4 linked regions of the Homo sapiens genome follow. The protein of the gene in region 1 purifies or fractionates together with the protein of each later gene. This does not show direct contact. Each region holds a gene or a part of one and is shown in the gene's direction. Other genes may lie near its edges. The genes, in order: COPS5, DTL, DDB2 and DCAF11.

Evidence for each region.
Region 2: the proteins of COPS5 (region 1) and DTL purify together in Homo sapiens (affinity purification with mass spectrometry; 6 studies listed by BioGRID and IntAct, with this or other methods). This does not show direct contact.
Region 3: the proteins of COPS5 (region 1) and DDB2 purify together in Homo sapiens (affinity purification with mass spectrometry; 12 studies listed by BioGRID and IntAct, with this or other methods). This does not show direct contact.
Region 4: the proteins of COPS5 (region 1) and DCAF11 purify together in Homo sapiens (affinity purification with mass spectrometry; 6 studies listed by BioGRID and IntAct, with this or other methods). This does not show direct contact.

What each region holds. Positions count from the first base shown.
Region 1 is NC_000008.11:67,052,112-67,059,133, reverse strand, and holds part of COPS5 (COP9 signalosome complex subunit 5), read left to right. Parts: intron 1-922; coding exon 923-1,051; intron 1,052-1,688; coding exon 1,689-1,754; intron 1,755-2,529; coding exon 2,530-2,615; intron 2,616-7,022. UniProt on the Homo sapiens protein: Probable protease subunit of the COP9 signalosome complex (CSN), a complex involved in various cellular and developmental processes.
Region 2 is NC_000001.11:212,094,746-212,101,767, forward strand, and holds part of DTL (denticleless protein homolog), read left to right. Parts: intron 1-5,506; coding exon 5,507-6,339; intron 6,340-7,022. UniProt on the Homo sapiens protein: Substrate-specific adapter of a DCX (DDB1-CUL4-X-box) E3 ubiquitin-protein ligase complex required for cell cycle control, DNA damage response and translesion DNA synthesis.
Region 3 is NC_000011.10:47,210,269-47,217,980, forward strand, and holds the start of DDB2 (DNA damage-binding protein 2), read left to right. Parts: upstream 1-4,705; 5' UTR 4,706-4,868; coding exon 4,869-4,995; intron 4,996-5,925; exon of another isoform or gene 5,926-6,067; coding exon 6,068-6,204; intron 6,205-6,589; coding exon 6,590-6,781; intron 6,782-7,712.
Region 4 is NC_000014.9:24,110,447-24,117,793, forward strand, and holds the start of DCAF11 (DDB1- and CUL4-associated factor 11), read left to right. Parts: upstream 1-4,330; 5' UTR 4,331-4,847; exon of another isoform or gene 4,848-4,935; 5' UTR 4,936-5,148; coding exon 5,149-5,303; intron 5,304-6,470; coding exon 6,471-6,598; intron 6,599-6,819; coding exon 6,820-6,947; intron 6,948-7,221; coding exon 7,222-7,286; intron 7,287-7,347. UniProt on the Homo sapiens protein: May function as a substrate receptor for CUL4-DDB1 E3 ubiquitin-protein ligase complex.

The sequences.
Region 1 (7,022 bases):
TTATCCCCTTTACATGAAATTTTATATTTAAATTTTAATGATTTATATGTAAAATGTACGAGATTAAAAGCCTGATAAGACTTATAGCATGGTTTTTTTTGTTTTTTGTTGTTGTTGTTTTTTTTTTTTCGAGACAGGGACTCACTCTGTTGCCCAGGCTGGAGTGCAGTGGCGTGATCTCAGCTCACTGCAACCTCCATCTCCTGGGCTGAAGCAATTCTCCCTCCTCAGCCTCCTGAGTAGCTGGGACTACAGGCGTGCACCAGTAGGCCTGGATAATTTTTCTATTTTTAGTAGAGACGGGTTTTCTCTGTGTTGGCCTGGCTGGTCCCAAACTCCTGTCCTCAGGTGATCCACCACCTCAGCCTCCCAAAGTGCTGGGATTACAGGCATGAGCCACTGCACCCGGTCTATGGCATGGATTTTATTTTTTTTTTAAATAAACTCTCACACTTATTATCAGATACGTGTTTAAAATAAAAAATTTGGAAACAACCTAACTCAGTTCCTGAGTATAAAACTGGCTAAATAAATTATGGTATATCCATCAGTGGACTGCCAGGCAGCCTTTAAAAGAAAAAAAAATAAAAAGATAACCATCATATATATTGATGATTTATATGAAGCAAACTCCAAAGCAGTTTATTGAGTGAAAAAACAAAGTGTAAAACATTATTATGTTATGTGGTATGCTATTGTGTGTGTTTTTATCAATCTATGTATGTGCAAAGAATATGTATTCTGTATACAAAGAATATCTCTGTAAGGGTAAGCAATTGCCCATAGATTTCGCATCTGGGCTGAGAAAAGTGGGTAATTGAGGAGAAGGAGATGGGAAGGAGACTGGTTACCCTTATTGTACTGGTACCTTGTAAATTAATTAAAGAGTAATCTTAAACTTTTTTGCCCCTTCATTTGTTAGGTTGGCCGCCTTGAAAATGCAATCGGGTGGTATCATAGCCACCCTGGCTATGGCTGCTGGCTTTCTGGGATTGATGTTAGTACTCAGATGCTCAATCAGCAGTTCCAGGAACCATTTGTAGCAGTGGTGGTAAGAATTTTAAAACCAGTTTAATTAAGTTCTTTATGAAGATTTGCTGAAGCAAGTATACTGAGAAATAAGAATAGTGTAGTAAAGAGAAATTGCTCTGGTATCAGTCTGCCTAGGTTTCAATGTGAATTCCATCTCTTAGAAGCTGGGACTTTGAGCAAATTATTTAACCACTGTGTATCTTGCTTCTCCCCTCTGTAAATTGTGGGTAGTCATAGCATCTATGTCTCAGTGCCAGCTCATCATAGGCATTCAATCAGTGTTGACTGAACTGAGTTAAGCAGGAATTGCTAGAGCAGCTCTTATTATGTTCAGGGTGTTTTAAGTGCAATCCAGGTTTTATGAGGAAGGTAGGAGTTATTCACCTCTTAAAAGGACAAAAGAAAACTTTTTAAAAATAGATGAGCAAACCTTCAAATAATATTCTTAAATGTTATAATAATTTGAATCTCTAAGTTAGCTGTGAGACACTTATATTACCCTCTTACTGAACTTTTATGGTTTTTTGGTTTATTCTTATTTGGTTATTATGTATGTATATAGTGTTATATGTATGTATACATTTCTAGGTTTATAATGTTTAAATAAAAGGCATACAGTTTTATATCAGCAGATATTAAATATATCTTTCTTATAGATTGATCCAACAAGAACAATATCCGCAGGGAAAGTGAATCTTGGCGCCTTTAGGACATACCCAAAGGTAACTTTTTTTTTTTTTAAGAGTTAGAGTCTCACTGTGTTACCTAGGCTGGAGTACAGTGGCTATTCACAGGCATGATCATAGTGTACTACAGCCTTCATCGCCTAGGCTCAAGCCAACTCAGCCTCCCAAGTAGCTGGGACGGTAGGAATGCTTAGTAATTTTTAAAATTATAAGTCCTTACATTTTTTAAATTCCAAATATTTGACTTATTATTAAAGACATTAGCAATATCTCTTGTTATTAAAACAATTCAATAATATTTACAAAATAGTAAACTACCACAAGCTGTCCCTAGCAAAGGGTAATACATTTATGTTATATATTGTTAATTTTACTGGAAAAGCAGTCTTTATTTATTAATAAGTATCTGTGTGCCTGTGGCATTCTGCCAGGTACTAGAGAAAAAACAAGCTAAATCTATAGGTCTATTTCCTTCCCTGGCAGGAGGCCGCAATCTGAAATAGTTATTAGAACAAAAGTACATCACCTAAGGAGAAGAAAAATAAATCTGTAAGCAAAATCCAGCCTACAGCCACCAAACTGGGTGGGGGGAAAGTAGAAACAGTATTTTTTTTTTATTAGAATGCTCATGTTAAATATTTGCCTCCGAAAGTTAATAATCCTATTATTAGAAAGCTCCATAGAAAACATGTTTTTCTCATTTTTATATATATATATATATATATATATATATATATATATATATATATATATATATATATATTTTTTTTTTTTTTTTTCTTAATCTTCTGTTTACCTCATTTTTGTTTAGGGCTACAAACCTCCTGATGAAGGACCTTCTGAGTACCAGACTATTCCACTTAATAAAATAGAAGATTTTGGTGTACACTGCAAACAGTAAGTAATTTAAAAACATATCTGGGCCAGGCACGGTGACTCACACCTATAATCCCAGCACTTTGGGAAGCCACAGTGAGAGGATTGCTTGAGGACAGGAATTCGACACTAGCCTGGGCAACATAGTGAGACCCCATCTCTACAAAAAATGTTATAAAAGTTAGCCAGATGAAGTGGCACAGTCCTGTAGTCCCAGCACTCAGGAGGCCTAAAGAAACCTTAGATATCAACCAGTCCAAGCCCCTTATTTTACAGATGAGACAAAAGGCATAGACAAAATGCATTTCATGATAGCTTTTACAATAATAGTATATGAATTTAGGTAAATGTTTGCATTTTTAAATTTTTTTCTTTTGCATTTTTTATTAATGTTTCAAACTAGCATGTCATTTGCCTTTTAAACAACCTAAACTTTTTCTAATGTACAAGATATTTGGCCTACATAAAATTATAACAAGTGAAAGATGGGTTCAGGACCAGCTGACACTAGCATGTCTGCAGCCCTCAAAATATATAATTTCTACTGAACAAAGATTCTTTCTAATCTTTGAAAGATTTGAAAGACTAAAGAAGCCATATTAAAAAGTCAAAGTTATAAAAGTGTAAGAATTCTTACTAAAAACCACTGTATTACATACCCTCCCCCCACCCCCAAGACATAGTCTTGCTCTGTTGCCCAGGCTGGAGTGCAGTGGCGTGATCTTGGCTCACTGCAACCTCCGCCTCCTAGGTTCAAGCAATTCTCCTGCCTCAGCCTCCCAAGTAGCTGGGATTATAGGTGTGTGCCACCACACCTAGCTAATTTTTGTATTTTTAGTAGAGACAGGGTTTCACCGTGTTGGCCAGGCTGGTCTCAAACTCCTGACCTCGTGATCCACCCGCCTCGGCCTCCCAAAGTGCTGGGATTACAGGTGTGAGCCACTGTGCCCGGCCTACGTACCTTTTTTGATGGTGAATTTTATGATGTATGAATTATATCTTAAATTATTTTAATGTTAAAGAAGCCAATGGGGACAGTTTTCTCTACCTTCTAAATATATCTCACCACCTCTTTTACTATCCTTTTCACCCAAGCCACTGCCATCTGGAGCCCCAATCAAGCACTTGCCTTCCGGCGAGTCTTTCTACTTGTGCCCTTCACTTCTTAAAGCTCTGTTTTCAGCCAGACTGATTCTGTTAAGATGTAAGCCGGATAATCCTCTTCCTTTTCAGAATGACTTCCCATCTTACCAAGAACAAGATCCTTAGTCCTTATCACAGACTGCACACCTCTGTGTGGTCTGGCTCCTACAGCCTCTGTGAGCTCATGTCCTATCACTGAACTTCTGCTGGTCTGCAATCCAGCCATATTGACTTCCTTATGGTTTGTAAAATGTGCCAGCAGGCTCATGGCTCAGAGCACTGGCACTTGCTGTTCCCTCTGCCTAGAACGCTCTTATTTCCATGTGGCTCACTAACTGCTTTAAGCATTGAGTATCTGTTTACAGGGTCGTGCTAACAGAAAATGTTCATTAGTTCATTAGGCATGATCATGGTGTAGTATTTTACCTATGTAAAGTAACACCTCTGTTTCCTCTTTCCCCGCTTTTTCTTCTTAGCACTGTAACCATCTGATATGTTTTGACATCTTTTTTTTGACCCCTTTAGAATGTGAACACAAATTTACTGCTGTATCCTTGGATTTAAAACAGGGCATGCCACATAGAAGAGGGCACCAAAAAAAATTGCTGCTTAAATGAATAAATGATTATCTACTGCCCTCTTTTTCTGTACCACTTATGCCAACTTCAAAGAATACTTTGGCTACCCATGTGCTACTACTGCTCTAATTTTTCTATTTAGAAGTTCTTAGAAAATTCTAGAATTTCTAAAATTAAATTCTTAAATATATGTGGTTTTCAATAATCTCTGACATATTTCTGTAAATACAATTCTCTTTTCTTCCTTTTTTTTGGTTCCTGTTTTTTTATTTCAGATGGAGTCTCACTAGGTTGCCCAGGGACTACAGGCACACCACTGTGCCCAGCTATAGAAACAAATATATATTCAGATAGAAGTTTAGTGTTAATTATTTAATTTGCCCTATTAAAAAGAATTTAAATGATTCCTGTTTGAGAGAATTGCTCCTAAGCCTGGAAATACCTTTGCTGTGATACTTTAATCTTCAGAGGAACTCTCAATTTTTTTTATTTATATTGAGTTGTATCAAAGGTTTATACTTCAAAACAAAAAAAGATTGAGACAGTTTATGTTTTCCGTATTCAAACAGATCTACTTTCCCTGTTTGTCTATTCCGTTAGTTTATCCTTCTGTCTTCCTTAAATAACTTTTTTTTTTAAGATCGTGTTGCGTACCAATCCTTAAATAACTTTCTTTTGGCAAACACCTTACCTTGCCACTCTGAAATATGAGCCTACCAAAGAGGGATAGCTACTTTGCTAGCGGCCTACATTGCTAAAGACTAGAATTTTGAACCTGGAATTGCTAAAATGTTCTTTTTTTTTTTTTTTTTTTAAATGGAGTCTTGCTCTGTCACCCAGGCTGGAGTGCAGTGGTGTGATCTCGGCTCACTGCAAGCTCTGCCTCCCAGGTTCACGCCATTATCCTGCCTCACCCTCCCGAGTAGCTGGAACTACAGGCGCCCACCATCATGCTCGACTAATTTTTTGTATTTTTAGTAGAGATGGGGTTTCACCGTCTTAGCCAGGATGGTCTCAATCTCATGACCTCGTGATCTGCCCGCCTCAGCCTCCCAAAGTGCTGGGATTACAGGCGTGAGCCACCGTGCCCGGCCCAAAAATGTTCTTTGTGTGTGTGTGTGATGGAGTCTCACTCTGTCACCCAGGCTGGAGTACAGTGGTGCCATCTCGGCTCACTGCAACCTCCGCCTCCCAGGTTCAAGCGATTCTCCTGCCTCAGCCTCCCGAGTAGCTGGGATTACAAGCACACACCACCACACCCAGCTAATTTTTGTATTTTTAGTAGAGACAGGGTTTCACCATGTTGGCCATGCTGGTCTCGAACTCCTGACCTCAGGTGATCCACCTGCCTCAGCCTCCCAAAGTGCTGGGATTATAGGCGTGAGCCAACACGCCCAGCATGATGTGTTTAATTTATTATGTTTTATTTCCTCACGCTAAACTTTAATCCGTAAGCATTTTTGCACTTTGGGAGTCTGAGGCGGTGGATCACTTGAGGTCAGGAGTTCGAGACCAGCCTGGACAACATGGTGAAACCCTGTCTCTGCTAAAAATACAAAAAATTAGCTGGGCATGGTGGTGGGCGCCTGTAATCCCAGCTACTCGGGAGGCTATGGCAGAACGATCACTTGAACCTGGGAGGCAAACGTTGCAGTGAGCCCAGATAGCACAACTGCACTCCAGCCTAAGTGACAGAGTGAGATTGCGGCTCAGAAAAAGCATTCTGTTTTTAAAAGGGTGCCTATGTGTCTTTATCTTTCGCACCACTAACCTCTGAGTCTGAACCTCTGTCTCTTCTCATCTTCCCTGCTGCAGTGGCTTCCTTTGTGGAATCCCTGCCTCCAGTTTCTCTCCTGTAATATCTCCTAATGGTACTATAAAACACCCCTTTGACTGTATTATTACTCTACTCAAGTACCTTCCATTCTACTCAAGCACCTTCCAAGAGTCCCGGGTATCTACAGGATAAAGTTTAAATTTCTTTTTTTTTTTTTTTTTAAGACAGAGTCTTGCTCTTGTTGCCCAGGCTGGAGTGCAGTGGCGCGATCTCGGCTCACTTCAACCTCTGCCTCCCGGGTTCAAGCGATTCTTCTGCCTCCGTCTCCCAAAGTTTGGCCGAGCACTGTGGCTCCCAGCACTTTGGGACGCCAAGGCGGGCAGATCACCTGAGGTTGGGAGTTCAAGACCAGCCTGACCAACATTGTGAAACCCCATCTCTACCAAAAATACAAAAATTAGCTGGGCATGGTGGAGGGAGCCTGTAGTCCCAGCTACTCGGGAGGCTGAGGCAGGAGAATCGCTTGAACCCGGGAAGCAGAGGTTGTGGTGAGCTGAGATTGTGCCATTGCACTCCAGCCTGGGTGACCAAGCAAGACTCTGTCTCAAAAAAAAAAAAAAAATTCTTAACCTTTTGTGTAACATCCTTCACCACCTAGACCCCAGCATAGCTTTCTAGCTTCCCCTCACATAATTCTTCTCTTGCTAAATTTTCCAGCTAAACCCATTGCCTTATTATCTCTTACATGTCTTTCCTTTTTGTGTGTTGATGCTCTCTGCCTAATGCCCTCCTTGCTCTCCACATATCCATACCATAGACTCAAAAATGTTTACCCTACACCTTGCCTTTTCCCTGAGGCTTCTCAGGCAGTTCTAGCTTGAGCTCCTCTATATGAAGAATACTTATTATCTCTAACCCTTAGTTGGTAGG
Region 2 (7,022 bases), on another chromosome or scaffold:
TTTTCCATTTGTTTGTGTCATCTGATTTCTTTTAGCAGTGTTTTGTAGTTTTCCTTGTAGAGGTCTTTTACTTCCTTAGTTAGGTATATTCCTAGGTTTTGCAGCTATTGTAAAAGGGGTTGAGTTGTTGATTTGATTTGCAGCTTGTTTGCTGTTGCTGTATAGCAGTACTACTGATTTATGTACATTGATTTTGTATCCTGAAACCTAACAGAATTCATTTATCAGATCTAGGAGCTTTTTGGATGAGTTTTTAGGGTTTTCTAGGTATACAATCATATCATTTACTAACAGTGACAGGTTGACTTCCTCTTTACCAATTTGGATGCCTTTTAATTTCTCTTTTCTGACTGACTGTGGCTGGCTAGGGCTTCCACTACTATGTTGAATAGAAGTGGTGAAAGTGGGCATCCTTGTCTTTTTCCAGTTCTCATGGGGAATGCTTTCAACTTTTCCCCGTTCAGTATAACGTTGGCTGTGGGTTTGTCATGGATGGCTTTTATTACCTTCAAGTATGTTCCTTCTATGCTGATTTTGCTGAGTGTTTTCATCATAAAGGGATGCTGGATTTTGTCAGACGTTTTTTCTGCTTCTATTGAAGTGATCATGTGTTTTCGTTTGTTTTTCTCTTAGAGTTTCGCTCTTGTTGCCCAGGCTGGGGTGCAGTGGTACCATCTCAGCTCACTGCAACCTCCACCACCCAGGTTCAAGGGATTCTCCTGCCTCAGCCTCCCAAGTAGCTGAGATACCACATCTGGCTAATTTTTGTATTTTTAGATGGGGTTTCACCATGTTGGCCAGGCTGGTCTCAAACTCCTGACCTCAAGTGATCTGCCCTCCTCGGCCTCCCAAAGTGCTGGGATTACAGGCATGAGCCACCGCACCCGGCCTGATTTTTGTTTTTAATTCTGTTTATATGGTGTATCACATGTATTGACTTGTGTATATTAAACTTTCCCTGCATCCCTGGTTTGAAATCCATTTGATCATGGTAGATTATCTTTTTGATATACTGTTGGATTTGGTTAGCTAGTATTTTGTTGAGGATTTTTGCATCTATGTTCATCAGGGATATTGGTCTGTAGTTTTCTTTTTTGTCATGTCCTTTCCTGGTTTTGGTATTAGAGTGATACTGGCTTCATAGGATGATTTAGGGAGTATTCCCTCTTTCTCTTTTGGAATGGTTTCAGTAAGATTGGTACCAGTTCTTCTTTGAATGTCTGATAGAATTCAGCAGTGAATCCATCTGGTCCTGGACTTTTTCTTCTTGGCAATTTTTTTATTACCATTTCAATCTAAGTGCTTGTTATTGGTCTGTTCAGAGTTCTTATTTCTTCCTGGTTTAATCTAGGAGGTTGTATATTTCCAGGAATTTATCCATCTCCTCTAGGTTTTCTAGTTTGTGAGCACAAATGTGTTCATAGTAGCCTTGAATGATCTTTTGTATTTCTGTGGTATTCGTTGTTAATATTTCCTGTTTCATTTCTAATTGAACTTATTTGGATCTTCTCTCTTCTTTTCTTGGTTAATCTCACTAATGGGCTATCAATTTTGTTTATCTTTTCAAAGAACCAGCTTTTTGTTTCATTTATCTTTTGTATTTTGTTGTTGTTGTTTCATTTTTATTAAGTTCTACTCTGGTCTTTGTTATATCTTTCCTCCTCCTGGGTTTGGGTTTGGTTTGTTCTTATTTCTCTAGTTCTTGAGGTGTGACCTTAGATTGTCAATTTGTGCTCTTTCAGACTTTTTGATGTAGGCACTTAATGCTGTGAACTTTCCTCTTAGCACTGCTTTTGCTGTATCTTAGAGGTTTTGTTAGGTTGTGTCACTTTTTTCATTCAGTTCAAAGAATTTTTTTAATTTCCAGCTTGATTTTGATTTCATTATTGACCCAAAGATCATTCAGGAGCGGATTATTTAATGTTGCATGGTTCTAAGAATTCCCTTTGGAGTTGACTTCCAATTTTATTCCACTATGGTCTGAGAGAGTACTTGATATAATTTTGATTTTCTTAAATTTATTGAGACTTGTTTTGTGGCCTATCATATGGTCTCTATCTTGGAGAATGTTCCATGAATGTTCTGATGAATAGAATGTATATTCTGCAGTTGTTGGGTAGAATGTTCTGTAAATACCTGTTAAGTCCATTTGTTCTAGGGTATAAGTCCATTGTTTCTATGTTGACTTACTGTATTGAAGTCCCCCACTATGAGATGAGATTCTATTTTTGTGTATTTCAAGGTTTTGCTCTAAGATTTAGAACTCCTTTTAGCAGTTTTTGTAAACTATGCTGGCTTGGTAGTGGCAAATTCTCTCAGCGTTTGAAAAAGACTTTCATCTTTTCTTCATTTATGAAGCTTAGTTTCACTGGATACAAAATTCTTGGCTGATAATTATTTTGTCAGCTAATAATTATTTAATAAGGCTAAAGATAAGACCTTTATCCCCTCTAGCTTGTAGAGTATCTGCTGTTAATCTGATAGGTTTTTCCTTTACAGGTTACCTGATGCTTTTGCCTCCCAGCTCTTAAGATTTTTTCCTTCATCTTGACTTTAGATAGCCTGATGACTGTGTGTCTAGGTGATGATCTTTTTGTGATGAATTTCCTGGGTGTTCTTTGAGCTTCTTGTATTTGGATGTCTAGATCTCGAGCAAGGCCAGAGAAGTTTTTATTCTTTTGCCTTTGTCTTTGTTGAATTGGGTTAATTCAAGAGCCTTGTCTTTGAGCTCCAAAATTCTTTCTTCTACTTGTTTGGTTCTATTGTTAAAACTTTCCAGTGTATTTTGCATTTCTCTAAATGTGTCTTTCATTTCCAGAAGTCATGATTGTTTTTTATTTATGATATCTATTTCTCTGGAGATTTTTTTCGTCTACATCCTGTTTTGTTTTATTTTTAAATTTAAGTTGGTTTTCATCTTTCTCTGGTGCTTCCTTGAGTAGCTTAATAATTGACCTTCTAAATTCTTTTCTGGCAATTCAAAGATTTATTATTGGTTTGGATCCATTGCTGGTAAGCTAGTATAATCTTTTAGGGGTGGTTATAGAACCTTGTTTTGTCATATTACCTGAATTGTTTTTCTGGTTCCTTCTCGTTTGGGTGGACTATGTCAGAAGAAAGATCTGGGACTCAATGTGTGCTGTTTAAATTCTTTTGTCCCACAGAGTGATCCCTTGGTGTGGTGCTCTCCCCCTTCCCTAGGGGTGGGGCTTTCTGAGAGCTGGACTGCAGTGATTGTTATTGCTCTTCTGGGTCGAGCCACCCAGCAGAGCTACTGGGTTCTAGGCTGGTACTGGAGAGTGTCTGCTAAGAGTCCTGTGATGTGATCTGTCTTCAGGTCTGTATGCCATGGATACTAGCACCTGCTCTAATGGAGGTGGTAGGAAAGGAGTGAAGTGGACTGTGTGAGAGTACTTGGTTGTAGTTTTATTTAGTGTACTGGTTGTCTTGAATGCTAGTTATACTAGCACTGAAGTTATTACATGGACAGACTCAGGACCTCTCTGGTTGGCCAAGATGTTACAGGCAGTAGAATTAGCTGTTATTTTCTGCTTTCTTGGAGCAGGGTTGTTCTGTTGAATTGCTGTAATGGCTTGAATTGGTTGGCCTCCAGCCAGGAGGTGGCACTTTCAAGAGAGTATCAACTGCAGTAGTATAGCGGGGGATATAAGCTTGCCTTACGGTTTCCTGGATAGGTTTTCGGGCTTCTCAGGCAATGAGCAGGGCCCCACGAGTTTTTGTCTTTTGTTTACGGCTACCAGGGCGGTTAGAGAAAGACCATCTGGTGGGGGCAGGGATAGTGTGTCTGAGCTCAGACTCCTTGGGCAGGGCTTGCTGTGGCCTCTGGGCGATGGGAGTGGTGGTTAACAGGCCAATGGAGTTACGTTCTAAGGGAGATTATGGCTGCCTCTGCTGCTTCATACACATCACCAGGGAAATAGGGGAAAGCCGGCAGTGACAGACCACAGCCAGCAAGGCCAGTCTCACTCCTGCAGTGCTTCCCCAACAGCCAACAGAACCAAATTTATATCCATGCCTCCAGTGCACAGGGTGGAGATCTTGCCCTAGACTACAAAACTCCCCGCCGAGAAAGCAAGCAGGGCTGTTAGGCCTTGTCCATCTGCCTGCCACAGCTTCTGTGCTCATATCTGCACTTCCTATTTGTCCCATCCCCCTGCAGATTCTGCCCAGGAAAATTCACGCTCAGTTGAAATCATTACAAAGTTCAGCTGAAAGTCTCCTTCTCCCTATGGTCCTTCCCCAATTCCATTGGCTGCCCTCTCCAAAGACCCCTGTGAGATAGTCAGAAATGGTTTCCCTGGGGACCAGGAGTGCCTACAGGGCTCTTCCTGCTGCTGCTTCTACTTTTATATTTTGTTTGGCTCTCTAAATTCATTTCAGTTCTCCTTCTCCCATGATCTGGATCCTCAGTGAGGATGTGTGCAGAAGTGGACTTTACCCCTCTCACACTGTTTTTTGTTTGTTTGTTTGTTTGTTTGTTTGTTTTGAAACGGAGTCTCGCTGTCAGGCAGGCTGGAGTGCAGTGCATGCGATCTTGGCTCACTGCAACTTCCACCTCCCAGGTTCAAGCAACTCTTCTGCCTCAGCCTCCTGAGTAGCTGGGACTACAGGTGCACACCACCATGCCTGGCTAATTTTTGTATTTTTAGTAGAGACAGGGTTTCACCATGTTGGCCAGGCTAGTGTTGAACTCCTGACCTCAAGTGATCCACCCACCTCGGCCTCCCATAGTGCTGGGATTACAGGCATGAGCCACCACACCCAGCCACCCTCTCACACTTTGGACCTTGAGAGCTTGTTTGGAGGTTCTAGCAGGGGAGCACATTTACTCGTATACCCTTGACTGAAGACCGATTCTCCTCTTATCAGGAATGGTTGTCCTCTTCGACCAAGCACACAGCTTCGGGAGCCCTCTCACACTTTGGGCACTCAATTTTTCTGCTGTCTTGTGGATTTTGCAGCAGCAAGCCACTTCTTTCAAAGGATCTGTTAATTCTTTTGTTTTTTCTGGTATGTTCCTGTGATAGTTCTTGGAGCCAAAGTTCACTATGTGAGTCTCCACATGCTGTTCTGTCTGTCTGAGTGGCAAATTAGTCCTGCCTCCTATCTGCCACTTTCCCCTTAAATCAGTCTCATTTTTGTAAAGAAAAAAGTTGAGATGTATAGTATGTATCACATGCACAAATATAGAAAGTATGCTAAACATGGTTTACGTAAGTGCTTTAAATTTTTTCTCTTTATGTTTTTCGGTATTTTGTCGATTTTTACAAGTATATATTTTATAATGGGATAGTTGGGAGGTTGGTGACTTGGAAAAGAGAAAGGAAAATGATAAAAGGGTGTGGTTGGAATCAAGTGATGTATACCTACTTACTGGCAAATTGACCCTTAGATGATTAGGTTAGCTATGATTTTTCTTGATGAGAATTTAGGGACTTTGTATGGCTTTCACTTCTGATCTTCATGATCCTCTCCTCTTTTTCAGTAACAGTAACGAGTAGCCAGAGTACTCCTGCCAAAGCCCCCAGGGCAAAGTGCAATCCATCCAATTCTTCCCCGTCATCCGCAGCTTGTGCCCCAAGCTGTGCTGGAGACCTCCCTCTTCCTTCAAATACTCCTACGTTCTCTATTAAAACCTCTCCTGCCAAGGCCCGGTCTCCCATCAACAGAAGAGGCTCTGTCTCCTCCGTCTCTCCCAAGCCACCTTCATCTTTCAAGATGTCGATTAGAAACTGGGTGACCCGAACACCTTCCTCATCACCACCCATCACTCCACCTGCTTCGGAGACCAAGATCATGTCTCCGAGAAAAGCCCTTATTCCTGTGAGCCAGAAGTCATCCCAAGCAGAGGCTTGCTCTGAGTCTAGAAATAGAGTAAAGAGGAGGCTAGACTCAAGCTGTCTGGAGAGTGTGAAACAAAAGTGTGTGAAGAGTTGTAACTGTGTGACTGAGCTTGATGGCCAAGTTGAAAATCTTCATTTGGATCTGTGCTGCCTTGCTGGTAACCAGGAAGACCTTAGTAAGGACTCTCTAGGTCCTACCAAATCAAGCAAAATTGAAGGAGCTGGTACCAGTATCTCAGAGCCTCCGTCTCCTATCAGTCCGTATGCTTCAGAAAGCTGTGGAACGCTACCTCTTCCTTTGAGACCTTGTGGAGAAGGGTCTGAAATGGTAGGCAAAGAGAATAGTTCCCCAGAGAATAAAAACTGGTTGTTGGCCATGGCAGCCAAACGGAAGGCTGAGAATCCATCTCCACGAAGTCCGTCATCCCAGACACCCAATTCCAGGAGACAGAGCGGAAAGAAATTGCCAAGCCCGGTAAGTCAGCAGTGGTGGGAAGATACATTTCCTAACTTAAAAGGGGCCAGACACCCAGATGTCTCAAGTCAGGATGCTTTTTTTTTTTTTTAAAGAAAGAAATCTATTTATTCCTAGTGCTGCCAAATTCAGCACATAAATACAAAACAAATTTTGCATGGGCCATATTTTTAGTAAAAATGTTTTATGCTAAGAAACTATTTTTGTTTGTCTGAAATTCAAATGTAACTGAATGTGCTGTATTTTATCTGGCAACTCTACTTACTCCCATTAAAATCCCTCCTGTCAGGGTCCATACTCCTCAGCCCTGTTGCCTGATTGACCAAAGCCTTCATCATGCTCCAGGATATCAATTCAAAAATATCTCCCCTCTCCTGTTAGACAGTATGCCATCCTCTTTTTATAGATAAAGCTGTTGTTCATGGGAAAGTTGCCAACATCCATAAGTAGATTTCCAGTTTGTAATTCCATTTTGTGATTATTTAAAATACAGTGAAACTTAGATACTTACAAAACAATTTGAGTGCAAAATCTTTCTAGATTTTTATGACTTCTCCACAATCTTTTATAATCATTTTGCCACACCACAGTAATACTTTTGACACCTATATCTATTCTTTTTAACATTCAGTGTAGTGTCACTTATCTTTTTAGGACTCATTTCATTGACTGACTTAATATTT
Region 3 (7,712 bases), on another chromosome or scaffold:
TAAAACTCCGGTATCCTGCACAGCTGGCTCTGCGTGAATTACTCTTTCTCTGTTGCAATTCCCCTGTCTTGATGAGTTGGCTCAGGCAAAGTGAACCCCTTGGGTCGTTACAACAGTACTACTGTCTCCATAGAATTAGCTTTCCTGAGTGCATCCAAAAATCTTAATTGGTGACCAGGCATGGTAGTTCATGCCTGTAATCAAAGCAATTTGGGAAGCTGAGGCTAGAGGATGGCTTGAGCCCAGGAGTTCAAGGCCAGTCTGGGCAACATAGTGAGACCTTGTCTCTATAAAACCAAAAACCAAAAACCTTGGTGGGCATAGCATACTTAGTCTTCAAATGTGTACCTACCTTGAAGTATTTTACTTGTTTCACATATATTTTTATTCAGTTCCCAGTAGGTTGTAAATCTTTTAGAGGCAAAGTCCATTTCTTACACTTCAATATCCCCTGCAACTGAGCACCCTGCTGAAGGACAGGTTGGTCTTAGTTGGCATGTTGGTTGGTCTGAATAAGGGGAGGGGGCGAACAGTTTGCTTCTGCAACACAGCTCTGAAAACACAGCTCTAGGCTAGCAGGGGAGAAGCTCCCAGCTTGCCCCTTTCCCAGGCAAAACCATTTCTTTTTTTTAATTTTTAATTTTTTATTTTTTGAGACAGAGTCTTACTCTGTCGTCCAGGCTGGAGTGCAGTGATGTGATCTCAGCCTTTTTGTGTTTTTTTTTCTTTTTTTTGAGACGGAGTCTCACTCTGTCACCCAGGCTGGAGTGCAGTGGCGCGATCTCGGCTCACTGTAAGCTCTGCCTCCCAAGTTCACGCCATTCTCCTGCCTCAGCCTCCCGAGTAGCTGGGACTACAGGCGCCCGCCACCACGCCTGGCTAATTTTTTTTGTATTTTTAGTAGAGACAGGGTTTCACCGTGTTAGCCAGGATGGTCTCAATCTCCTGACCTCGTGATCTGCCCGCCTGGGCCTCCCAAAGTGCTGGGATTACAGGCGTGAGCCACCACGCCTGGCCGTGATCTCAGCTTACTGCAACCTCTGCCTTCCCGGTTCAAGCGATTCTCATGCCTCAGCCTCCTGAGTAGCTGGGATGACCGGCACGTGCCCCATGCCTGGCTAATTTTTGTATTTTTAATAGAGAGGGGTTTCACCATGTTGGCCAGGTGGGTCTCAAACTCCTGGCCTCAGGTGATCTGCCCACCTCGGTCTCCTATTGGGATTATAGGCGTGAGCCACCGCAACCGGCCTTCTAATTTCCCTTTTGGAGCATTCATTCCGTTGCAAGAGCTTATTTAATTTTTATTTATTTATTTATTTATTTATTTTTGAGACAGAGTTTTGCTCTTGTTGCCCAGGCTGGAGGGCTATCACGCCATCTTGGCTCACCGCAACCTTCGCCTCCTGGGTCCAAGTGATTGTCCTGCCTCAGGCTCCTGAGTAGCTGGGATTACAGGCATGTGCCACCATGCCCTGCTAATTTTGTATTTTCACTAGAGATGGGTTTTCTCCATGTTGGTCAGGCAGGTCTCGAACTCCCGACCTCAGGTGATCCGGCCGCCTCGGCCTCCCAAAGTGCTGGAATTACAGGCGTGAGCCACTGCGCCTGGCCAATTTTTATTTATTTATTTAGAAACAGGGTAAACCTCTGTCATCCGGGCTGGAGTGCAGTGGCACAATTGTAGCTCACTGCAGTCCCAAACTCCTGGGCTTAAGCGATCCTCCTGCCTTGGCCTCCCAAGTAGCTGGGACTACAGGCGTGTGCTACCGCACCTAGCTAAGTTGTGTATTTTCTAATTTTTTAGACAGGGGTCTCAGTATTGCTGAGGCTGATCTCCAACTCCTGGGCTGAAGCGATCCTATCCTCTTGCCCTCTCGAAGTGCTGAGATTACCAGCATGAGCCACCACACTGGACCAAGAGTTGATTTTGGTAACATCTTCTGTCCCTATCTGTCTGAAAAATCCTTGAGAGTAGGATCTACCATTAATGCATTAAACAAATTATTATTTTTTGTTTGTTTATTTTGAGATGGAGTCTTACTCTGTAACCCAGGCTAGAGTGCAGTGGCGCTATCTCAGCTCACTGAAACCTCTGCCTCCCAGGTTCAAGTGATTCTCCTGCCTCAGCCTCCTGAATAGCTGGGATTACAGGTGCGTGCCATGATGCCCAGCTAATTTTTTATATTTATTTATTTTTATTTTTATTTTTTTGAGTTGGAGTCTTGCTCTGTCGCCTAGGCTGGAATGCTGTGGCATGATCTTGGCTCACTGCAGCCTCCCTCTCCTCGGTTCAAGCGATTCTCCTACCTCAGCCTCCTGAGTAGCTGGGACCACAGGCAAGTGCCACCACGCCCCAGCTAATTTTTGTATTTTTAGTAGAGACGGGGTTTCACCATGTTGGTCAGGCTAGTCTCGAACTCCTGACCTCAAGTGATCTGCCTGCTTCATCCTCCCAAAGCGCTGGGATTACAGGCATGAGCCACTGCGCCTGATGGTATTTTTAGTAGAGAAAGGGTTTCACCATGTTGGCCCGGCTGGTCTTGAACTCCTGGCCTCAAGTGATTCACCTGCCTTAGGCTCCCAAAGTGCTGGGATTACAGGCTTGAGCCAATGCGATGGCCTACCATTAATGCATTTTTGTATATCTCCTCCCACCCCCACAAACTGTCAGGCACGGGGCTTAGTGGGTGGAGGAAAGGCCCAGCAATGCCTGAGTAAGCCCAACTCCTGCCTGCCTCTTCGCAGAAACTAGGGTGCATCCAAACTGTCTCTTCTCAGGCTAGGCAGGACAGCGCGGCCTCACCTGTGAACCTTCAAGACTTGGACTTTGGCTGAAGCGAGGGCGTAGGAGTTCTAAGTACCGCTGGCTGCACGCCCTCTGGCCCATCACGTCCCAGGCTGCTCCTAGGTGGACACCCAACAGGTTAGGCAAGTCTTAGTTAAAAGCAGTGAGAGGCCAAGAGGCTGGGCATGGTGGCTCACGCCTATAATCCCAGCATTTTGGGAGGCCGAGGCAGGCAGATCACAAGGTCAGAAGATCGAGACCATCCTGGCCAACATGGTGAAACCCTGTCTCTACTAAAATACAAAAAATTAGTCAGGCGTGGTGGTGTGTGCCTCTAGTCCCAGCTGCTCCGGAGACTGAGGCAGGGGAATCGCTTGAACCCGGGAGGCGGAGATTGCAGTGAGCCGAGATTGTGCCACTGCACTCCGGCCTGGGCAACAGAGTGAGACTCCGTCTCAAAAAAAAAAAAAAAAAAAAAGCAGTGAGGAGGCTGGGCACAGTGGCTCACACCTGTAATCTCAGCACTTTGGCAGACCGAGGTGGATGGATGCCAGGAGTTCTAGACCAGCCTAGGCAACTTAGGGAGACTCTGTCTCTACAAAAAATGCAAAAATTAGCTGAGTGTTGCGGCGCGCACCTGTAGTCCCAGCTACTCGGGAGGCTGAGGTGGGAGGATCGATGTCCAGGAAGTCCAGCCTGCATTGAGCCCACATCCTGCCACTGCACTCCAGCCTGGGTGACAGAGAGAGGCCCTGTCTCAAAAAAAAAAAAAAAAAAAAGAAAGAGAGAAAGAAAGAAAGAAAAAATAAAAACAGCCAACGACCAAACAAATAAAAGAGCAGTGAGAACCAGACACGGTGGCTCATGCCTGTAATCCCAGCACTTTGGGAGGCAGAGGCAGGAGGATCACTTGAGCCCAGGAGGTCCAGACCAACGTGGGAAACATAGCAAGACCTTGTCTCTACAAAAATAAAAATAAAAAAATTAGGCTTGGGGATACAGGTCTGCAAGCCTACTTGGGAGGCTGAGGTGGGAGGATCAGTGAAACTTGAGGTCAAGGCTGCAGTGAGCTGTGATTACATCACTGCACTCCAGCCTGGGTAACGGAAGAGAGACACTGCCTCTAGGAAAAAAAAAAAAAAAAAAAAAAAAAGGCAAGGAGTTCCAATCATTCTCCCTTCACAGAGAAGCAGCTTGGATTCGATGGGACTGTAGTTTCTGGAATCCGACTGCAAAGCTGACCGCTGGTAGAGCCCAGCTTCTAACTTAGGAAAGGCACTAGCTCTCTACAAAGCCGCCACTCCCCAACTACACCCTGTAGGGACCAGCCAATCCCAAAGCCCGAGCGGGCGTCATCACCAATTGCAAGGCGGGAGACAGAGCCTTGGCTGGCACCGGGCCTCCTCCCCGGACCCGCAGAGGCCTGGCAGCGCCGCGTTTGAGGAGGGTTCGTGTCAGGAAGTCAAGGCTGGATGATCGCTTAAGCCCAGGAGTTAAAGACCGGCCCGGACAACAAAGCGAGACCCCGTCTCTCCAGAAAAAGAAAAAAAGAGAGAGAGAGAGAGAAATTAGCCGGGCGTGGTGGCGTACGCTTGTAGTCCCATCTACTTAGGAGGCTGAGGTGGGAGGATCGCTTGAGCCCAGGAGGTGGAGGCTGCACTGAGCTATGATCGCCCCACTGCCCTCCAGAGTGAGCGACAGAGCCAGACCCTGTTGCTAAAAAAAAAAAAAAAATCCATAAAGCCGGGGACCATCTTTGCTCCAGGGAGGTCAGCTGACCCGGGCTGGCACTGGCCCTGGCGCAGTTCCCGCCCCTCCCGGGAGCGCTGGCACCGCCCCTTGGCACCACCCCCTCCCCGCGCCCCCGCCTTCCAGGAAGGGGCGGGGTCTCCGAGACGGGTGGGGCCGGAGCTCCAAGCTGGTTTGAACAAGCCCTGGGCATGTTTGGCGGGAAGTTGGCTTAGCTCGGCTACCTGTGGCCCCGCAGTTTTGTAGTCCCCGCCTTGTTTCTCCCCAGAGGCCTCTCAATCCTCCCTCCATGATCTTCGCATAGAGCACAGTACCCCTTCACACGGAGGACGCGATGGCTCCCAAGAAACGCCCAGAAACCCAGAAGACCTCCGAGATTGTATTACGCCCCAGGAACAAGAGGAGCAGGAGTCCCCTGGAGCTGGAGCCCGAGGCCAAGAAGCTCTGTGCGAAGGGCTCCGGTACTGCCTGTGCCTGCTGCTTGAATATTTCCGCCTTTTAGGGTGCTCGCGCAGGAGGCTGCAGCGGGGGATGGGTGCTCCGAGGCTCCCGAGGCCCGCGCAGGTCACGGGTGCCTCCGGCTGTGCATTCTACCTGCAGGTCCTTTGACACCAGAGTGTTTAGGTTTCAACACCTCTCCCGCTAGGTAACAGGAAGCAGATGAGCTCCGTAACAACAGACACACGGACTTGTCAGATTCCTTGTTCGTATCAGGGTTCTTGCACAGTTAGGACGGCTTCAGAGAATCCTACCTTTCCTGGCGCTGTGTGTGCTGGATTTCATAGTCACGCTTGTTAGCTGCACGTCCTCGGTGGTCAGTTGTGAGAGCCCCCAATTCCTTCCTCCTTAGAAAGCTCATTCTCTGAGGTTTACTGGGGCTTGAACCTGGGGCTATAAGGAGTTTCGAGACACTCAAAAACGAGCTGGGGCTTGTTAATCAAGTGGTTTTTGTCCATGAGAAGAAAGAATTGGTTGTCAAGACGTCGGACCTATAGTGATTGGGTCCTCAAATACAGTTTGGTGATCAGGAGTTGTTGCTTTATTGCTATTCTAATTTCACTTACCTCCCCAGAAGTAACCTAGTTAAGAGCATTTCCAGGCCTTCCTATTCCTTCTTTTCCTAAACGGTGACTTCTGCCATGCTGCCCTAAAATCTTTTTATTGTGCATTATATGTGATTTATAAAATTGTGACCCAGTCCCATCTCGAGTTTTGCAGCCCAAACTGGGAAGAGTTCTGCATTGTACTTTATCCTTGTGTGTTTCTTTGGCTGGGGTCTCAGGAACCCTGCACGACTGTATTTACTTTCACTTCAGACTTACTGTTTGTGGGAGTGTTTTGGGGAAGGGGCCAAATCCTCACTCATTTTTTTATTTCTGGTGCTCGTTGAGACCACACAGACATGGAAAGGCCGCAGGAGGTGATGAGACAGAGATTAACCGTGCCGAATGAAACAAGGCTTCCTTTCGGGGAATTCAGCAGAAAAACCTTTCGTGAGATTGGAGAGGAAAATATGTCTGTTCTGCTTGGCAGGTCCTAGCAGAAGATGTGACTCAGACTGCCTCTGGGTGGGGCTGGCTGGCCCACAGATCCTGCCACCATGCCGCAGCATCGTCAGGACCCTCCACCAGCATAAGCTGGGCAGAGCTTCCTGGCCATCTGTCCAGCAGGTAAGGCATTTTTTGCCTCAAGTCCTCAAGGGTTTACACGTGCATTTTTACTATTGCATGCTCCCAAATTAGATGATGGCTTGGTTCACCAGCTTGTCAGAGTGGTCCGATCACCCAGACTGTGGTGACTGGCCTACTGGGCACTCAGCCAGGTAAAAAATGTCTTATGTTGTAAAGGTCCCAGCTGGAATGCACTCTGCCCCTTTTGCTTTCCAAGATTATTCGTTCGTGTACATTGCAAATATTTTCATGCACAGGGCAGGCAGTTAGCTTTCCTTTGGTGGGAGGACTTGGATCTAGGGCTCATCCATGAAGGAGGCAGAGATTGGCAGTTTACCCAGAACTTGGGTTTTAATTCAACCTAATTCATTTCTCTCTGTGGCAGGGGCTCCAGCAGTCCTTTTTGCACACTCTGGATTCTTACCGGATATTACAAAAGGCTGCCCCCTTTGACAGGAGGGCTACATCCTTGGCGTGGCACCCAACTCACCCCAGCACCGTGGCTGTGGGTTCCAAAGGGGGAGATATCATGCTCTGGAATTTTGGCATCAAGGACAAACCCACCTTCATCAAAGGGGTGAGCAGTTCCCCATGCCAGGTCGTGCTAAAGAAGTGTTTGTTGGCTGGGTGCAGTGGTTCGCACCTGTAATCCCAGCACTTTGGGAGGCCAAGGTGGGTGGATCACCTGAGGTATGGAGTTTGAGACCAGCCTGGCCAACATGGTGAAACCCCGTCTCTACTAAAAATACAAAAATTAGCTGGGTGTGGTGGCAGGCGCCTATAATCCCAGCTACTCAGGAGGCTGAGGCAGGAGAATTGCTTGAACCCGGGAGGCAGAGGTTGCAGTGAGCCAAGATTGCACCATTACACTCCAGCCTGGGCAACAAGAGTGAAACTCCATCTCAAAATAATAATAATAATAATAATAAAAGAAAATAAAAATAAGGAGTGTTTGTTGAAGGCATGAAAGGAATATTGATGTCATCCAGTAATCATCAGGAAGAGGACTGGGATCAAAATTAACTGTGGGCATTTTCAAATACGTAAATGATGATGATATATATTTTTCTAATGCCTGTCCTTAAAATACTAGAAGATATAGACTATTGATCACCCATAGAATTGAAGCCCCTTCTGGGCTGGGCGCAGTGGCTCAGGCCTGTAATCCTAGCACTTTGGGAGGCCAAGGTGGGCTGACCACGAGGTCAAGAGATGGAGACCATCCTGGCCAACATGGTGAAACCCCGTCTCTACTAAAGATACAAAAAATTAGCTGGATGTGGTGGTGTGCGCCTGTAGTCCCAGCTACTTGGGACACTGAGGCAGGAGAATCGCTTGAACCCGGGAGGCGAAGGTTGCAGTGAGCCGAAATCACGCCACTGCACTCCAGCCTGGGCAACAGAGCGAGACTCCATCTCAAAAAAAAAGAATTGAAGCCCCTTCTTACCACATTGACCTCATCTTACGCCATTGTCTTTTCTCACTTCTATGCTGTAGCCACACCAGCT
Region 4 (7,347 bases), on another chromosome or scaffold:
ATCTATTACATGTCACCAGAAGAAATGATTATCTTTATTTTTTTAACTTGACAATGTAGTTTGCACAATTTCCTATGGTATAAAAATAGAAGGCTACAACAAACCTATACCAGGAATAGGTACCTTAAAAAAAAATTGAAGACTACAACACCATTTTAATAGCTACCTGGTATTTCTGTGTCTATACTACATGGACCATAATTTATTTAACAATCCCATATTGCAAGATATTTAGATCTTTGTTTCCAGTGTTCCACTTTTATCAATAATTGCTATGTAGAACATAAATTTTTATGCATGTCCGGCCTAGATTTCTGGAAGCAGTATTACTGGGTCAAAGTGCAAGGCTGTGAGGAAGGGAGTTTTGTAGACAGCTTCCCTCTAATAAGAAATTCTCCTGGGAAGGTGCAGAGGTAAAAATAAACAAGCTATTTATTGGCATATTTGCTTAGCAGAAATATCAAAAAATGAGGTTACTAAAAATAGACATCCAGGTTTGGAAGTTTGTATTTGAAACAATGAACAATAGTGAGCCATTTGTTGATTTTCTTTTAGAGACAGTCTTTAGCTCTATCCCCAGGCTGGAGTACAGTGGAGCAATCATGGCTCACTGCAGCCTCCACCTCATAGGCTCAAGATTCCCTCCTTCATCCTTCCCAAGTAAGTTGGGACCATAGGCACGCGCCACGATGGCCGGCTATTTTTTTTTTCTTTTTGTAGACTGGGTCTCACTATGTTGCCCAGGCTGGCCTTGAACTCCTGGCCACAAATGATCCTCCTCCTCGGCCTCCCACAGTGCTGGAATTACAGTCGTAAGCCACCGTGCCCAGCTCACTTGTGCGTTAAGCACTAAATGCTGTTAGAGGAGGATTCTTCAGCAGATCAACTACCGGAAGAGGCATAGGTGTTTTTTGTTTGGTTGGTTGATTGTTTTTTGTGTGTGTGTGACGGAGTTTCGCTTTTGTAGCCCAGGCTGGAGTGCAGTGGCGTGATCTCGGCTCAATGCAACCTCCACCTCCCGGGTTCAAGCGATTCTCTTGCCTCAGCCTCTCGAGTGGCTGGGATTACAAGCGCATGCCACCACACTCGGCTTTTTTTTTTTTAGTGACGGGGTTTCACCATGTTGGCCAGGCTGGTCTCGAACTCCTGACCTCAGGTGATCCACCCGCCTTGGCCTCCCAAAGTGCTGGGATTACAGGCGTGAGCCACCGCGCCCGGCCAATTTTTTTAAAAAATGATTCCGTCCTGAGACTTTGCTGAAGTTGCTTATCAGCTTAAGGAGATTTTGGGCTGAGACGATGGGGTTTTCTAGATAAACAATCATGTCGTCTGCAAACAGGGACAATTTGACTTCCTCTTTTCCTAATTGAATACCCTTTATTTCCTTCTCCTGCCTGATTGCCCTGGCCAGAACTTCCAACACTATGTTGAATAGGAGCGGTGAGAGAGGGCATCCCTGTCTTGTGCCAGTTTTCAAAGGGAATGCTTCCAGTTTTTGCCCATTCAGTATGATATTGGCTGTGGGTTTGTCATAGATAGCTCTTATTATTTTGAAATACGTCCCATCAATACCTAATTTATTGAGAGTTTTTAGCATGAAGGGTTGTTGAATTTTGTCAAAGGCTTTTTCTGCATCTATTGAGATAATCATGTGGTTTTTGTCTTTGGCTCTGTTTATATGCTGGATTACATTTATTGATTTGCGTATATTGAACCAGCCTTGCATCCCAGGGATGAAGCCCACTTGATCATGGTCGATAAGCTTTTTGATGTGCTGCTGGATTCGGTTTGCCAGTATTTTATTGAGGATTTTTGCATCAATGTTCATCAAGGATATTGGTCTAAAATTCTCTTTTTTGGTTGTGTCTCTGCCCGGCTTTGGTATCAGAATGATGCTGGCCTCATAAAATGAGTTAGGGAGGATGACAAATGGGATCTAATTAAACTAAAGAGCTTCTGCACAGCAAAAGAAACTACCATCAGAGTGAACAGGCAACCTACAACATGGGAGAAAATTTTCGCAACCTACTCATCTGACAAAGGGCTAATATCCAGAATCTACAATGAACTCAAACAAATTTACAAGAAAAAAACAAACAACCCCATCAAAAAGTGGGCGAAGGACATGAACAGACACTTCTCAAAAGCAGACATTTATGCAGCCAAAAAACACATGAAGAAATGCTCATCATCACTGGCCATCAGAGAAATGCAAATCAAAACCACTATGAGATATCATCTCACACCAGTTAGAATGGCAATCATTAAAAAGTCAGGAAACAACAGGTGCTGGAGAGGATGTGGAGAAATAGGAACACTTTTACACTGTTGGTGGGACTGTAAACTAGTTCAACCATTGTGGAAGTCAGTGTGGCGATTCCTCAGGGATCTAGAACTAGAAATACCATTTGACCCAGCCATCCCATTACTGGGTATATACCCAAAGGACTATAAATCATGCTGCTATAAAGACACATGCACACGTATGTTTATTGCGGCACTATTCACAATAGCAAAGACTTGGAACCAACCCAAATGTCCAACAATGATAGACTGGATTAAGAAAATGTGGCACATATACACCATGGAATACTATGCAGCCATAAAAAATGATGAGTTCATGTCCTTTGTAGGGACATGGATGAAATTGGAAACCATCATTCTCAGTAAACTATCGCAAGAACAAAAAACCAAACACCGCATATTCTCACTCATAGGTGGGAATTGAACAATGAGATCACATGGACACAGGAAGGGGAATATCACACTCTGGGGACTGTGGTGGGGTCGGGGGAGGGGGGAGGGATAGCATTGGGAGATATACCTAATGCTAGATGACACGTTAGTGGTGCAGCGCACCAGCATGGCACATGTATACATATGTAACTAACCTGCACAATGTGCACATGTACCCTAAAACTTAGAGTATAATAAAAAAAAAAAATGATTCCGTCACATTCTGGGAGAACGCAGGTAAAATCAATCAATAAATAAAGATCCCGATTTTCCAGGCTGGATAACCCAGAAACCACGGAATCCTAAAGTCTCAATAAACGTTAAAGCACAGATAGTAAGTAATCTGGCAATAGAGGATGGGCGCCCAGCAGACCGCCTACATAATCAGTGGAGCCGAGTGCAAGATGAAAATACCAGGCACTTGCTTTAAAATTACTAATAATTTCAAGACCGTTAACACTAGAACATTAAACCAAACATTCAGGACCCTTCTAAGCGCAGAGGCCATCAAAGCTAGCCCTGGTGACAAGCTCAGGTCTCCGGATCTAGAGACTAGGAGACGTCGCCCGAAAGCTGGCCAAACCCTCGCCCTCACTGGGAGAGGCCCCAGGAGGGCCCAAGAAGGCCACGAGCCCTCGCTCCCATCCCTGCCCTCAGGAGCGGGCGGAGGGAAGCTCGCAGCTTTCCCAAGGAAGTGCAGGCTGCAGGGAATGAAGTTCAGCTCGGACCCTGAGCCTCTGAGCCCGAGACAGCAAGGTCATTCAACCCACACGTCCCCACCCAGCCAGGGCGAGGATCAGAGATGTGGCAACTCCCGGCCTTGGACTCAGGCTTGTTACTCATAAACCCGCAGGAGGGGGCAGGAGGGGGCAGGAGGCGGCGAGCGCGCACCCTGGACCCGCGGCCGGGGGCGGAGAGGCACCGCGAGGACAGAGGGACTAGCGAAGGTCTGCAAATCCCGGAGGGCCAAGGGAGCGTCAAAGGGGACAGCGGAACCGGAAAAGCTTTGACAGAAAGACGCGTGTATTAGGGAACGTCTGCAAAGACCGCGGCGGAAAGCCAGGGATTGTCTTAAAAAATTGTCAGACCGGATAAAGGGAGGTCTAAAAGGGGACCGTCCCAAGAGCAAGGCTTCCAAAAGCTAAGCCCGGAAGGACGGTATGGAGGTCTACTGGGACGCTGGGCACCCCTTAGGGCAGAACCGACTGGAGCTGCGGCCAGCGACAGAAGAACGGCTCCAGCTGGACAGGGGAAGCAGTGGGGAGAAAGGAGGCCCTTGGGCACTGTCTGAAAAGTGCGATGCCAAATGATCTTTAGGGACAGACAGTAAATTATATCCCTTGCTAAAATACCTCTCGGTAGCGAACCACCAAACGTTTCTTTTTTAAGCCCCGCCTCTCAGCCGTTACGCCTAGTTCGGCTGTCTCTGATTCAGGAAGCTGGCAGTTCCCACTTACTCCTCCCCAGCAAGAGCTAACAGCCCTCCTTGGGTGTGCACTTTCTCCTCCCCTCAGGCACCTCGCGCATTCTCCCGCCTACCTATCAATCATCGTGCTCCGCTGTCCAGTTGGCTGGCCAAGGGGGCGGGGCCGTCGTGTGACGTTTGCAGCCCGCCGGCCAGGAAGCCGCGAGATGCGTGACGAGCGAAGCGCGTGACGGAGGAGCGGTTGGCCAACGCAGTGGCGGCAGTCGGTGTAAACAAGGCCTCGCGCCGCTGCGGGTCCTGCGACCGCTCCTGGCTGGTGGGTGGTCTCGCGTGGGGCGGTTACCGCCGGCTTCAGTGGGAGGTGCTTCTCGGCTTCCTCCCCCTCATGGCGTACACACCCCCGGCGCACCACGTGGGCGTGAGGCGAGGAAGGAGGGGTGTTAGGCCAAATTCTATTTTCATTGGCTGTCACTGCTGCCGGCCTTTGTAAGGGGGCGCTCTGATTGGTCGATAAGGTGGGGGCGTCGAGGGTCTTTGAGTCCTAAGGCTTCTAATTGGTTAGATGAGATAAGCTAGTGAAGCGCTTTCTTCCGAGAGGGATTTCGATTGGTCGGTCAGAGAGGTTACCTGGAAATCCAACACCGCCCAACACCCCTCCCGCTCCCCAGTCCGGGGACTTCGATAGGTGAGTTTGGTGTAGAAAACAAATCTTTCTTCAGTTGGTGAGCTAGGGTAGCGCACTACGGTTCACTCTTGCTTTCTTTGCTTCACAGGATTGGAGAAGGTTTGTGTTCCCGACGCCTTGGTAGTTGGCATAGGCTAAAGAAAAGGGATCTCAGCCCCGAGGAAGGGTCACCCTCCTAGAGATAGCTACTACCCCGTCTCAGGAGACCCTGGTATTTCTAGAGCACGCTTTGCTTTCACCAAACCCAAGGAGGTGACAGGAGGAGCCCCCGCACAGGACCTAAGAATGCTGTGACCAGAAGATGGGATCGCGGAACAGCAGCAGTGCAGGATCCGGGTCCGGAGACCCCTCCGAGGGCTTGCCCCGAAGAGGGGCTGGCCTGCGTCGGAGTGAGGAAGAGGAAGAAGAGGATGAAGATGTGGATCTGGCCCAGGTACTGGCCTATCTCCTCCGCAGGTAACTTACCCTCTGGTGTGACCCCCAGCAGGTGCTACCACAGTGCCTTGATCCCAACTCCAGGCAGGAAAATTACAGAGGTTAGGAAATGGGATTCGCTCAGGACAGCTGTTCTGTTTGAGCTGAACAGCCTTTCCCTGCTGGGCACCCATGGCACTCAGCTCCATACCCAGTAAGAGTGGTTCTTACCTAGGGAGGGTCACCAAGAGGACCTGCTCATGTGTTTGAGGGGCTATTCAAGGGAGCCTGTCTCTGTGACTACACAAATATAGTCTATTTTCCAAGTAAGCTTGAAAAAAAAAAGGGGGGGGTCCTAGTGGGAAAGGAGTGATGTAAGGGGTGAAGAGATGGGAAGGGAGTGTTGAACTTTTTAGTAAGGCAGTTGACACATGATATGAGGCCACTTCGATTTACTTGAAAAACAAGTTTAATTTGCCCTGACTCTAACCTGTTCTTGAGGAAAGAATGCCTTGAAGGGAGAGACCACCTGGAATTGACTGGAAAAGGGTGCAGCTGGCTTTCTTTCTTTGCTTATGGCTCTTTGAGGAGAAGATGGGTTTGGGGGTCCCTTCAGAATATTGTATTCTTTTTTGTTTGTGTTTTGTGTTGTTTTTAGTAGACATAGACAGGGCTCACTGTGTTCCCCAGTCTGGAGAACGGGCTATTCACAGGTGTGATCAAGTGCACACCACAGCCTGCAACTCCTGGGCTCAAGCAATCCTTGCCTCCCAGGTAGCTAAGACTACAGTTGCACACACCACCGCACCCAGCTTAGAATATTGTCTTCTGTGGTGGACTTCTCAGGCAGAGGCTCAGAAGGAAATGCTGTGAGGATGTTTAGCTTGTTGGGAGGTCAACTTAGTAGGTCATGTCCACAGCGTATTGGTCTTGCTCTTGTTCTAAGGAAATGATGTTAGAATGTTTAGCTCGCTGGGAGGTCAACTTAGTAGGTCACGTCCACAGCATGTTGGTCTTGCTCTTGCTGTAAGAGTAAAACTCTCTTTCCTACTGTGTTTTATAGGAGACCAAAAATAACAGCCAAGGTCTAGTCAGCCTCAAACCTCAAAATGAGTACCAAGTGGTCTAAGAGCTAGATAGCCATTGACTCTGAATTTGGTTGGTTTGGGGGAAGAAGTCCCCTCCTTTATAATGGGGGTCTCTCCACAGAGGCCAAGTGAGGTTGGTGCAGGGAGGAGGTGCAGCAAATTTACAATTCATTCAGGCCCTCTTGGACTCAGAGGAAGAGAATGACAGAGCTTGGGATGGTCGTCTTGGGGATCGATACAACCCACCTGGTAAGAGGAAAAGCCCCTAATGTTGGAAGACTTTTACTAGAAAACCTTTTAGTGATATTTTGAATGATAGGTTACATTGAAAGAAGGTACGATAATTTAAGGAATAAGGAGTCCTTACAGCCCCAGTATATTCAGCCACAGGGGTGGGCTTGGGTACAGTTCTGCTAACTGTCCTCTGAGGCTGGCAGACCTAGGATGAAACTTCTCCTTGGTACTCACAGTGGATGCTACCCCTGACACCCGGGAGCTGGAATTCAATGAGATCAAGACACAAGTGGAACTGGCCACAGGGCAGCTGGGGCTTAGGCGGGCCGCCCAGAAGCACAGCTTTCCTCGAATGTTGCACCAGGTAGGCCTCTCCACCTCCCAGCCTGGCAGCAGGCCTGCCAAAGCAGCCAGAAGCTCTGCCAGCCCCAGAGAAAAAGGAAGTCAACTTTCCAAAGTAGAAGCCTCAAGCGCTGGGGCTGGAGAGTTAACCAGCCTCCATCGGAGTTCTGTGGGACAGACTATGATGTGTGTGTCCATTTCTATAACAAGAGCAATATCTTTGGAGGAGGGGGCTTGATATGGCTGAAGTGGCCCTCTATTTCTGCTAGCAATATTCCCCAATCCCTTCCATTTAGAGAGAACGGGGCCTCTGCCATCGGGGAAGCTTCTCCCTTGGAGAACAGTCTCGAGTGATATCTCAGTGAGTATGGGGCTTGGTGAAGAGACTCTAAGGGCCAGATAGGTCTTATCTCCTAAACTTT